Regions from separate parts of the Homo sapiens genome. Here region 1 is linked to region 2. A link means that fine-mapping ties the variant in region 2 to the expression of a gene that starts in the linked region. Tissue or cell type: NK cells. Region 2 holds a variant in brackets; the other region holds the start of a gene. All regions are shown on one strand. Distances are from middle to middle. Region 1 holds the start of RAB11FIP2 (RAB11 family interacting protein 2). Region 2 overlaps CASC2 (cancer susceptibility 2).

What was found.
Region 1: RAB11FIP2 starts here. The variant in region 2 is fine-mapped to the expression of RAB11FIP2 in NK cells (Gilchrist 2021, PIP 0.95).

What each region holds. Positions count from the first base shown.
Region 1 is chr10:118,044,545-118,049,929 of GRCh38, forward strand. It overlaps RAB11FIP2 (RAB11 family interacting protein 2), which reads right to left and starts at 2,397. Exons shown (of 5, transcript NM_014904.3): 1 at 1,267-2,397. The coding sequence starts at 1,619. CASC2 (cancer susceptibility 2) reads left to right here and starts at 2,277. Exons shown (of 4, transcript NR_026940.1): 1 at 2,277-2,559; 2 at 4,968-5,073. RefSeq lists a silencer at 1,835-2,324.
Region 2 is chr10:118,078,372-118,083,756 of GRCh38, forward strand. The region is part of intron 3 of CASC2 (cancer susceptibility 2); the gene reads left to right. Among named protein-coding and RNA genes, the nearest start is that of RAB11FIP2, 34 kb to the left of the region's middle. The variant T/C (reference allele first, on the strand shown) is at 2,866.

The sequences.
Region 1 (5,385 bases), 34 kb before region 2:
CCTTCTAAAATATTTTCATCTCAATTAAATGGTACCATTTTTCCTCCTGCATTCCTAGTATTTCTGATCTCTCTACACTTTTACTCCACATATATTAAATCTTAGGTTAAGACCTGATTTAAAATGAAACAAAAAAACTCCAATCAAGAGAAGCCTGAGAGTAGAAATGTACAGAAAAGAACAAGAGAGAGTCGTTTTAAAATGTAAAGAATTAACATAAACTTCAAGAAAAATATCATTGTAAGAAAGTTTTTTAAAGAGTAAATAAATTCAATTATAACTGAACAAAACACCAACACTATTTTGGAAATGGAAAGTCCTCTTAGAAGTTCAACCAGTATTTTTCTCTCACTAATTTCATTAATATAATGTCCTTTTAAGTTTATGGAAGGGGTGAGTATACTTAACTCTAAAAACATATTTTTTTTCAATTTAAGACACAATATCCTAGTGTTAATTTATATTATGATTTTTTAAATTAAAATGTATCTAACTCAAGCTCAAAAGTCATACTGAAAAGACCACTGAAGATGTTATCAAATCATTTCATCACAAAAATTTATCATTCTCTCCATCCTACAGCATTTAATATGGTCTAAACACAATAGCTTTGGAAAATCAATTCTGAATACAATAACTCTGATGTAATTGCAAATTCAAAGGAAAATGTAAGTGCATTCGAAGTTGAGGATGTCTGTACATACTTTTAAAACTTTTTTTTTTTCTAACAGGTATAGACTCCCATCAAGGCACACTGACCCTGAAAAATGGCTGAGCTAAAATAAAAGCTGTGTTTATAACGCTGAAACGAAATACTGAGTTCTAAATCTGGTGATTTATCTTTTGACAGCTACAAAGTGCGACACATCAACATTACATTGCCAGATTTAATTTCTCATCTTCCATTTCATTGATAATTGTAAGGTTTAAAATCCATAACAATTTATATGAAGTTCTAGTTGGTCAATACTGTGATCCAGTCCTCATACTGAAACAATGTTAACTTACTTAAAATCCACCACAAAATATTCAATTATTTGACAGATGTTTAACAGAAAGAATAAGGGATCATTAATGATTCCATTTAAAAAATATTTCATCACGAGTGCTACTTTTACTTCAGATTCATGCAAATATGGTGCTTAAAACTGGATCATATTTCAATCCAAAAACCAACGCCCGAAGTATACGGATAATTTCCAAGAACAGAAAAACCATAAATAAGATATAAACTCCCCCAAATTCAAAATAAATTACATAACTTACTCTGTTTTCCTTCTTTGTTTGTCCTCAAAGATGTCATTGAGATTGATTGCCACCTGCCCTAAAAATTTATCCAGACCCACCAGGGACCTGTGCATAACTATAAGGAAAAGAATGTATTTCTCTGGACTTCCCTGAATTAGCAATCCAGGTAGCTCGAAAGAGGCCTCCTCCTTCCAAACTGGCTCAAGGGTTTTCTCAGCTACAGAGGTGGAGTACTTTTCCTTGCCCAGCTGAATTATAGTGTATGTGTCATTGGTACCACTTTTGCCTTTTGGCTTCAGATCTTTGGCTTGGAGCACTGTGACCTGCACGTGGGTTGGAAACCACTTTTGGGCTTGCTCGGACAGCATCATCCTGTCCTGTTTCTCTGCCCCCGAGTTCCCTAGCACAGGCAGTGCCCCTCCCGGAGGGAGAGCCTAATTCCTTAATCACTGCATCCTAAGGACACTTAACGGAAACAGGCAGGCTCAGGGCTCCCCGACTTCCCTATGGCTGATGTCAAAACGCCTCGCGGGGGCAGCCCAGGGGCACGGCCGCTCCGGGGGTCCCCTTTCGTCTGGAGAAACACAGAGGCCCACCATCACCTGGCCGCGCCGTGCAGGCCTCTGCGCGGACCCCCGCCCCTGTCTCCACCTTCCCCAGGCCTGCGGGGCACGTGAGGCCTGGCCACACGGACCCGGGCGGAGGGCTGCGGGGGTGAAGGGAGCCCCCGCCCCAATTCTGCACCCCTGGCCTCCCGCCTGCCTCCTTGCGGCCGAGCAGCCTCCGCTGCCTCCGCGCCTCCCGCCCGCCCGGCGTTCGTCCGCAGGCTCGGCCCGGCTCCTCCTCCCGACCCCGGTAATACGAACCGCCGGCGGCTAACGCGGCCTCGCTCCCTCTCGCAAACCTCTCCCTCCTCCTCCTCCCCCTCGCCTCAGCTCCTCCTCTCGGGCGGGAGCGGGTAGCCAGGGGTGGAGTGGGGGAGGGCGGGGAACGCGGCCGCCCCGGCGCCGGCGGGACGTGGGGCGGGCAGCGGGCTGCAGGGCTGCGGGCGCTTGGTTCGGCCTGGCCCGGCCGGCGGCTCCTAACACCGGGCGGGCGGCTGCGGCGGCACTTCCGGGTTGGCCTTCTCCATGTTGGTCTCGGGAACGTGAAGGGGCGGGGCCTCGAGGTCAGGGGTCAGCACCTCCCTGGTTGCCGTGGCGACTGGAGGCGCGCGACGCGGGCGCAATGGCGGGGACCCGGGGCTTGATGCTGCTTGGGCCTGGCCCAGTGGCGGGTCCTAGGGACGTGGGTACCTGCAGAGGCCGGCAGGTGAGCCCTGGGGAGGGCTGGGGACCGCTCGTGAGAGGAGGTCATCAAAGACCCGGAGACGCCCCTAACTAGGGCGTCTTTGAGGGCAGGGGATCTGTGTTCGCTGTGTCCTGGATGCCCAGTGCCTGGCAGGAGCAGGTCCATAAATGGTGTTGGAACGAATCAGGCCTCTTCACTGACCGAAAGGAAACTTTTCTCCAATCTCCTATCCACCCTTCTCTTTTTGAAAAGTCCGTAAATTGACTGAAAATGACATCCCCCACCCAGACGAAGGGCGATAGGGAAGCAAATAGTTTCCACAGGGAGTAGAGATGTAGGGAGGCACTGGGCTGGCATCAGAAGACCTGGTTCCGGCCGCGCCTCTGCCGCTATCAGTGTGTGTGACCTTGGCCGAGTCATTTCACCTCCATGAGCCTCAGTGTTTTCACGAGTAAAAAAGCCAGTTCTACCTCATGTCTAAGACTCCATCACGACTCTATGGGCTCGACGTCAAAAGGACCCCCGTGGGGACTCACACTGTGGTGGACTGTGCAAATCATGTGGAGACCATGCCCCAAACACGGGTTTCGAGTTTCAGGGGATAATACATGTGCCTTTCCTAGCACAATGCGGCACATAAATCTCCTTTTGCCCCTCTATTTCTCAATTGGAAGAGACGCTTATGTACCACCCCATTGCTGTTAATTCTGTTCGTGTCTTACCTTCCCAAGGAAATTCTAAGTTTTGGGACTGCCTTGTCTATCATGCAGTCCCTTCATAGTGGCTAGCATGCAGCAGACAATTTACTGAATTACTTAATGCCTTTTTTCCCTTTACAAGACTAATTTTGAGAGTAAAACAATATGATACATGTAAATGCACGTTTTTTTAACTTAAATGGCCATAAACATGTAAAGTATCGTGTTTATTATTTTCAAGCAAGGTTTAAAACTTCTCATTCAAGGCAGAATTTTTCATCCCTGGGAGACAGTGTATGAAAAGGCCATGTGTGGAAAACAGAACAAAATCATCGTACTGCGAATATAGCATCTGGATCCCAGAGTGCACAGTTGTCAACTTTAAAGAAAAATATTCTTAGGGATTTTTAAACAGTACGTTGGAACAGTCAATGGTGGAATTTCACCAGGATCTCTAAGGAGAAATAATTTGACACCTGAAACTTACAAAAACCAAATAAACATCATGAAATCAAATTTAATTAAGTTTAGAGTTCTTATACATTTTAAAAGTCTTCATGTCTCTATTAAAGGTTGTAATTAAACAATAGAAAATTATAATAGTGGATGTGTATTTCTGAAGAGCTTAAATTGGTAAGCTTTATTAATGATTATAAACTTGTTTACAAATATAATTTCACTCATCTCTGAAATATAGCCATCTCTAGGGTAGAAGTTGGCAGCAGTAGTTCACAGCAACTCAATAACATACTCCAACACAACTCAGAGAATACTCTAAAGGCAAGAGCTGAACAATTGGAATTACTAACCTCTCTTTCTGTAGCACCTAAATTTCTTTTGAGTTTTCCCAACAGCTGGCTAGAGCCAAAATTGTTTAGTTTTACTGGTGAAATCAGAAATTATGACTTAAAATTTTTTAAGCCAGAATAAGAAAATAACATATTTTTGCCCCCGGGGAAAGCAAATAAACAAACAAACCAAATGAGCTAAATAGAATCTGGGATTGCATTATAATAAGGAAATGACTTCCTATAGAATGTTTTCCTTTTTTGATTATATTAAGAGAATAAAAATATGACAGTGGAGTCAAAGATATGGTTGGCTTATAGTGAAAAATAATGACAATTACATAAGATCTGGGATCAAAGTGCTTCTCCCAAAATGTTTATTGTTTTACAGTTTTAAAAATTCTTTTGACTAATTCTAAGATATACATGGACAACAATTTAAAAAGGAAAGGATTGCGTGTGTAAGGACAACATACCAGAATTGAAGAGAGTCACTTTTTAAAAAATTATCCTATGACTAATGATACATCCGGAAATGTATGGTACAATTCCAAAATCAAAGTCTTGGGAAAATAATATATTTTAGAAGGAAAATGCTGAACATTCTAATTTTAAACTGTTAACAATGCCTACAGCAATGAATAAGAATGCTTTGACCAGAAAGTTAAAATAGTCAATATTTATTCCCCATGAGTAGAGGATTTCACAGATGAAAATATTTACTACATGTTGCCCCTTTCAGTCCCATAAAGAATAAGTCCCATAAGGAGACCTATTCCAGACATTGGGGGAGATTTTCCCTTTGGACAAAGGCATCTCTAAAATCACATCTTGCAAATCTGTTGCAGAACAATTATAATGCTCTCATGTTTAAATAGCCCACTGGGTCAAGCGTGTTAATGCTCCCATGTACATTATGTAATGGATATTAATTATTTTCCAGATGGAGATTCAGAAACATAAGGACAACAAGAAACTTCCCCAAGGTATCATTATAGTCTTTAGACTTCAGACACACACCACACCTCAAATATATACACAACTGAAAGGTATGTAAAATTCATATATATGTACATATGACAAAGCCCCAGAGTTATATTGGAGATACATAGATAGATGATAGATAGATAGATAGATAGATAGATAGATAGATAGATAGATAGATCAATCTCCTTGTAATCGGTTGAAAAGTGAAAGAGTATTTGGCAAATTGACTTGAAATTATTATGGCAATGAACTGGCATTTGGGGATTTTTGGGGATTGTTTTGTTTTGTTTTCATCGCTGGACTGATCAATTTCTCTTCTGGGATTGGGCAGTGTGTGGATACATTTTGTGATGCCCAAGAAGTAACATGGTATG
Region 2 (5,385 bases):
CTAACAATTTGTAAATATCACTACATTTAAATATTCTAAATTGCTTATACTTAACCAGGATTAAAAGGAATGACCTCTTAAGATTCACAATTTTTTTTTTTTTGCTTTATTTCTCTGACAAAAACTATTTTTGGAAATAAGGTTTATCCTGCAAGCTTTACCAAAGTGGTAATTTCAATAGAAAGTCAAAGAAAACATGACGTCCAAAGAACCACCAAGCTGTAGGCAACAATATTTATAGGCACTCAGATTCATGCACATTCTTTTCAGGCTACAAAAGGCCTGTTATCCCACTTGGGGTAAGCTAGTCTTGAATACTGATTTGAAGTATCACAACGAGTGACAATTGCTTCCTAGCTACTCCACTTTGTTATATGCTTATCTCTGGAGTATGTTCCATCTCAAGCATGGCTCATGGCTACTGGCCTATTTAGATTGAAAACAAGAGAAAGGCAGCATGTGTCTTCCACTGTAATCTGTGACACCACAGCAGTTTCCCTGGTAGGGATGTACAGAGTAACCCTGCAGAACTCACAGGTTATAACAAACTGCTGCTCTGTTACCCCAGAGGAGATTAAGTGATGATCTGGAAGACAAAAATCCCATCTTATTTTGTTACCAAAACCCAATCTTAAGAATTAAATACTTATGAGGTCGGGCGCGGTGGCTCACGCCTGTAATCCCAGCACTTCGGGAGGCCGAGGCGGGCGGATCACGAGGTCAGGAGATCAAGACCATCTTGGCTAACACGGTGAAACCCCGTCTCTACTAAAAATACAAAAAATTAGCCAGGTGTGGTGGCGGGCGCCTGTAGTCCCAGCTACTCCGGAGGCTGAGGCAGGAGAATGGCGGGAACCCGGGAGGCGGAGCTTGCAGTGAGCCGAGATCGCGCCGTTGCACTCCAGCCTGGGCTACAGAGCCAGCCTGGGCTACAGAGCGAGACTCCGTCTCAAAAAAAAAAAAAAAAAAAAAAAAAAAAAAAAAAAATTAAATACTTCTGGGGAAAAGCCATAACATTCCAAAAGACAATTTATTATAATAGATATGCTATTACATTAAAGACAATTGCAGCCTTCTAATTCATTCTTAGTTTAAATGTATCATGGTTGAGGGAAAAAGGCTAGGTTAATAATATGAACACATTTTTATCAACATGAATCTGAAATGTTTTTGAAAAGCCTGTTATATAGATTATTAGAAAGGTTAGATTTTCCAAAAGGTTAATATTTATTTTTAACAAGAATGATTTCTTAAATTATAGTTTTAAAACGTTAATAATTGCCAGTGGTTTCAAATAGACTTCCTTTTATCAGGGAGCTGGGATCTTTTGGTTCACTAGACCTCCTTGATCTTAGGCTGTATAAATTGTTTAGTTTTATTTGGTGCCATAGGGACTCCTTCAAACTTATCAGAAGCCTCAGTTTAATACAGAAAAAGAGAGGCTCAGACATGTCAATATAATACTGTTAATGTTTTCCACGTTTGTGATTTCAGGGTCAAAGTCAAACCTCTTATTGTATTAATAATAGCAAAGCAAAAATAGGCTTTGTAGTTGTGAATTCATGGTTTTAAAGAATAATTTCCCTATGTTTTTATTAATTCAAGCCATCCATTGAACCACTCAAGGATTCCATTATGTATTTGAATGATGTATCTCATACTGTACCTTTAACTTTGGAAGACTATGAGAATGGATATGCGTGTGATTCTTTACAGTCATCAACATAGGATATTTCCTTTGTTCAAAAGTTATGTTAATTAATAACATTAAAAGTTATATTTAGTAAAATAAACTTTAGAGCTTAGCAGTAAAATAATTAAAAGCCAGTTTTCCTCTACTCATTATTTAAAAGAGCATGGTTTGCAAGTTAGTTCATATGCTATGCATTATGAAGCATGGCCATATATTCTGGATTCTTTTACTATCTGATTTGTAGACCCAGCAATAATCAGAATTTTAATAAAAAAGTTCCAGAGAAAACCCAGAAAGCCTCAGCTTACCAAGCGCTTTCCTTTTGAGAGTGTATTGAATCCACGTTCCATTCAGCACTGATTAGTGGTAAAACTAAACCAAAGCTGTCGGCGTATTGCAAAAGGCCTTTGCTTGACCAAAGCTCTTGTTTAAGACAAAGCTGCCATTGATGTCCACCCCAGGTGACAAGGGGTGAGAATGGAGTGACTTGGCAGCTTCTTTTTCTACCTGTGGGTCTTGCCCTTCTGTCATTCCCACCTGACACCCTTCCCCACCTTAAACTTGATATTGGTGGATGGGAGCAGGAATTCACAATGCAGCTAAAATAAAGATGCTCAAAGCTCCCTCTTCTGTATGGCAGACCTGGATTGTGTGCCTTTGAGAGGGGCAAGCTTGTCTTTCCTATTCCCTAAGAAATATATCCTTACCTAGCCAAACCTATTTCCCCTTCCTGAGGGCCTATGCAGGCATGCACAACACAGCAGTGTTCTACGTTAGATTTTGCACCAGGGTTCACTCAGGGTCTGCTGGTGGCTGTGAGAAGAACCTCTCAGCTGGAATGGTTCATGAGTGAATGGTAAAGCCTAGGTTTCAATTACTTTGGAGAATGGAACGTTTCTTAGCTTTCTTTCCTCATGAACTTCGTGGTATCATTTGTCATGCCATTTTGCCAGCTATGCACTTTTTTACATAGTTTTGTTTGGTTTGCAACTCACGAATATCAATCAAAGAAGTTGTTTCATTTTTAAGAAATGGCAAAGAATATCTTGCCTCCTTCTGTTGTTTCATAGGTGAGTTATATGGCATGTGGAAGCTGAGAATTCAAACTCAATTCATGCTAACTCTTTCCTAAAATTAGGAGAACATTTCTGATTATAACTCATTTCCCTATT[T/C]ACAAGGTCAAACATTTTGACTTGTAAGGTACCAAACAAATATCATGCTTCTGCGTTTGCCAGATTATGTTCTAAAGATATTGACTGGTACATTGTGGTCAAATAATTTTGGGAACAGTGGGTTAAAGAGAGGTAGAGATGTTTCTTTACTGAGTCTTAGAGGCACTACACCAAAGTGGTTAGGAGTGTGGACTCCAGAGACCCCACTGTGATCTAACTTTTGATTCCACCACTGACTAAATGTGTGATCTTGGGCAAGTCAATATCTCTGCACCTCAATTTCCTCATCTGCAAAATGGAGTCAGAAATAGGGCATATCTCTCAGAGTAGTTGTGAGAATTACTTCCATTGATATATATCGTATATATAAAGCCCTTAGAACAGAGCCTGACACAAGATAAGCACCATGTATGCCCTGTATTAGCTATTATTGCTATAATTATCAAGTTTCTAAAGGGGAGATAAAGCAGTCAGTCTTTCCCAGTCTTACCTATTTGTCCATCCATCCATCCATCCATCCATCCATCCATCCATCCATCCAATTCTCTTCTGACCAATATAAACAGCCTGAAGTGAGAGAGAGAGAGAGAGAGAGAGAGTTTGAAAAGTAACTAAAAATTGCATCCTCGTTTGTATTATCTATTACTGCTGCCTGCTTTTATTGGGTATTTGCTTATTCACTTTTTCTTGTTTTAAAGAATGGATCAGAACACAATTTGAGGGCTATCCCATAGAAAGATTGAAATATTACATTATTTATCAATTAATTCCTGCAGGCTTCCCCAAAGTCCTCTCTCTCACTCGAGAATGGACATTTTGCAAACAGAAATCACAAATATACTAATGTCCTTTATTTATTAGCCAAATTTTGTTTGAGTGCCTGCTGTGTGCCAGGGACTGTTCTGGGCACTGGGGACACAGCAATGAGTGAAATAGACAAACATCCCATGTTTCATGGAGCTTAGATTCTGTCAGTAACCAATAAGCAGCTCTAGAAACCAATAATGAAGCCACAATCAAGTCATCAAGTCCGCTACATTTCTCAAGGCTTCTGAATACATTAAAAAAATGAACAAATTGCAAAATCAGATTTCCTAAATGTTAGTGTATTTCAAATGATATTTTATAAATTATTGCGTGTAGCACAAAATAAATAGAATAACAGAATATTTAATCTCTTTTAGAAATAATCTCAAAAGTAAAGAAGTATGAGACCTCAGCTGGGCCATAAGGGGCTCTTGTAGGCGCCCCCCCAACACCCGTACCTACTGACCTTATCCCACCCCAAACTTATGCTGGGTTTAAGTCTTGGTTAAAACTCAATGAACTAATCTGCCATTTTTCAGCTAAAATAATGAAGGTTTTTTTCCCTCTCAGCCTTTGTTCAGGGTAAATTTCTTAGACATATAGTTTGTTTTTTATCTACACTAGTTTTTTTAGTTTAAGGAGCCTATAAAATAGCATATCAACATTAAAGCCTTACATCAAATCAGAAAAAGACAGACGTGCAATTTTTTAAAAATTTTAAAGAGATATGGAGCCATATATGTCTCTGTCTCAGACTAGAATCAAGCACTGAAATATGACATATACGATGACTGCAATTCAACTCACTAATGTTTTGTTCCTGACATGCAATTTTGGTACATGATAACATTGAGTAGTTGTTTTGTTTTTAATTACAAATATAAAAAATGACACTTAACCAGGCTGGATGTTGGACTTTTAGATAATTTTAAGATAGGGAAATTGTGAATACACAAATATTTAGTGTGTTTGGTTAATAAACTCAGAAGTATATAATTTTTCTAATATTTTAACTTGTGTTTTCTTCTTCTTTTTTTTTTTTTTTTTTTTGACAGAGTTTCACTCTTGTTGCCCAGGCGGGAGTGCAATGGCGCCATCTCGGCTCACTGCAACCTCTGCCTCCTGGGTTCAAGCAATTCTGCTGCCTCAGCCTCCCGAGTAGCTGGGATTACAGGCATGTGCCACCACGTCTGGCTAATTTTGTTTTTTCAGTAGAGACAGGGTTTCTCCATGTTGGTCAGCCTGGTCTTGAACTCCCGACCTCAAGTGATCCGCCTGCCTCGTCCTCTCAAAGTGCTGGGATTACAGGCGTGAGCCACCACGTCTGGCCTGAGCCACTGCACTAGGCCGTGTTTGCTTCTTTGGTTATCTGATCAACACCAAGATCAAGCATTTTATATCTTTGGGAAATGCAGGACCTCAGAATTATAAATTTTTAGAGTTAGAAGGGGGGCTTGAAGACCCTCTCATTGGACCCACTCCTTTTACAAATGGGGAAACATAAGACCAGAGTGGGTAGGATCAGTTGTCTTTTGATTGAATTACAATTTTTGTCATGAGCAGAATATTTTATTTAGGTCTTACATAAAATAAGATCCTTGTATCCTACTAAAACCTTCTGTATTATGCATCAAATCATCAAAGTGTCAGTGAACCTGCCAAGCAGAAAGTAATGTTAAGTTTAAAAGTATTAAGTACTTTAAAACTGTTTGC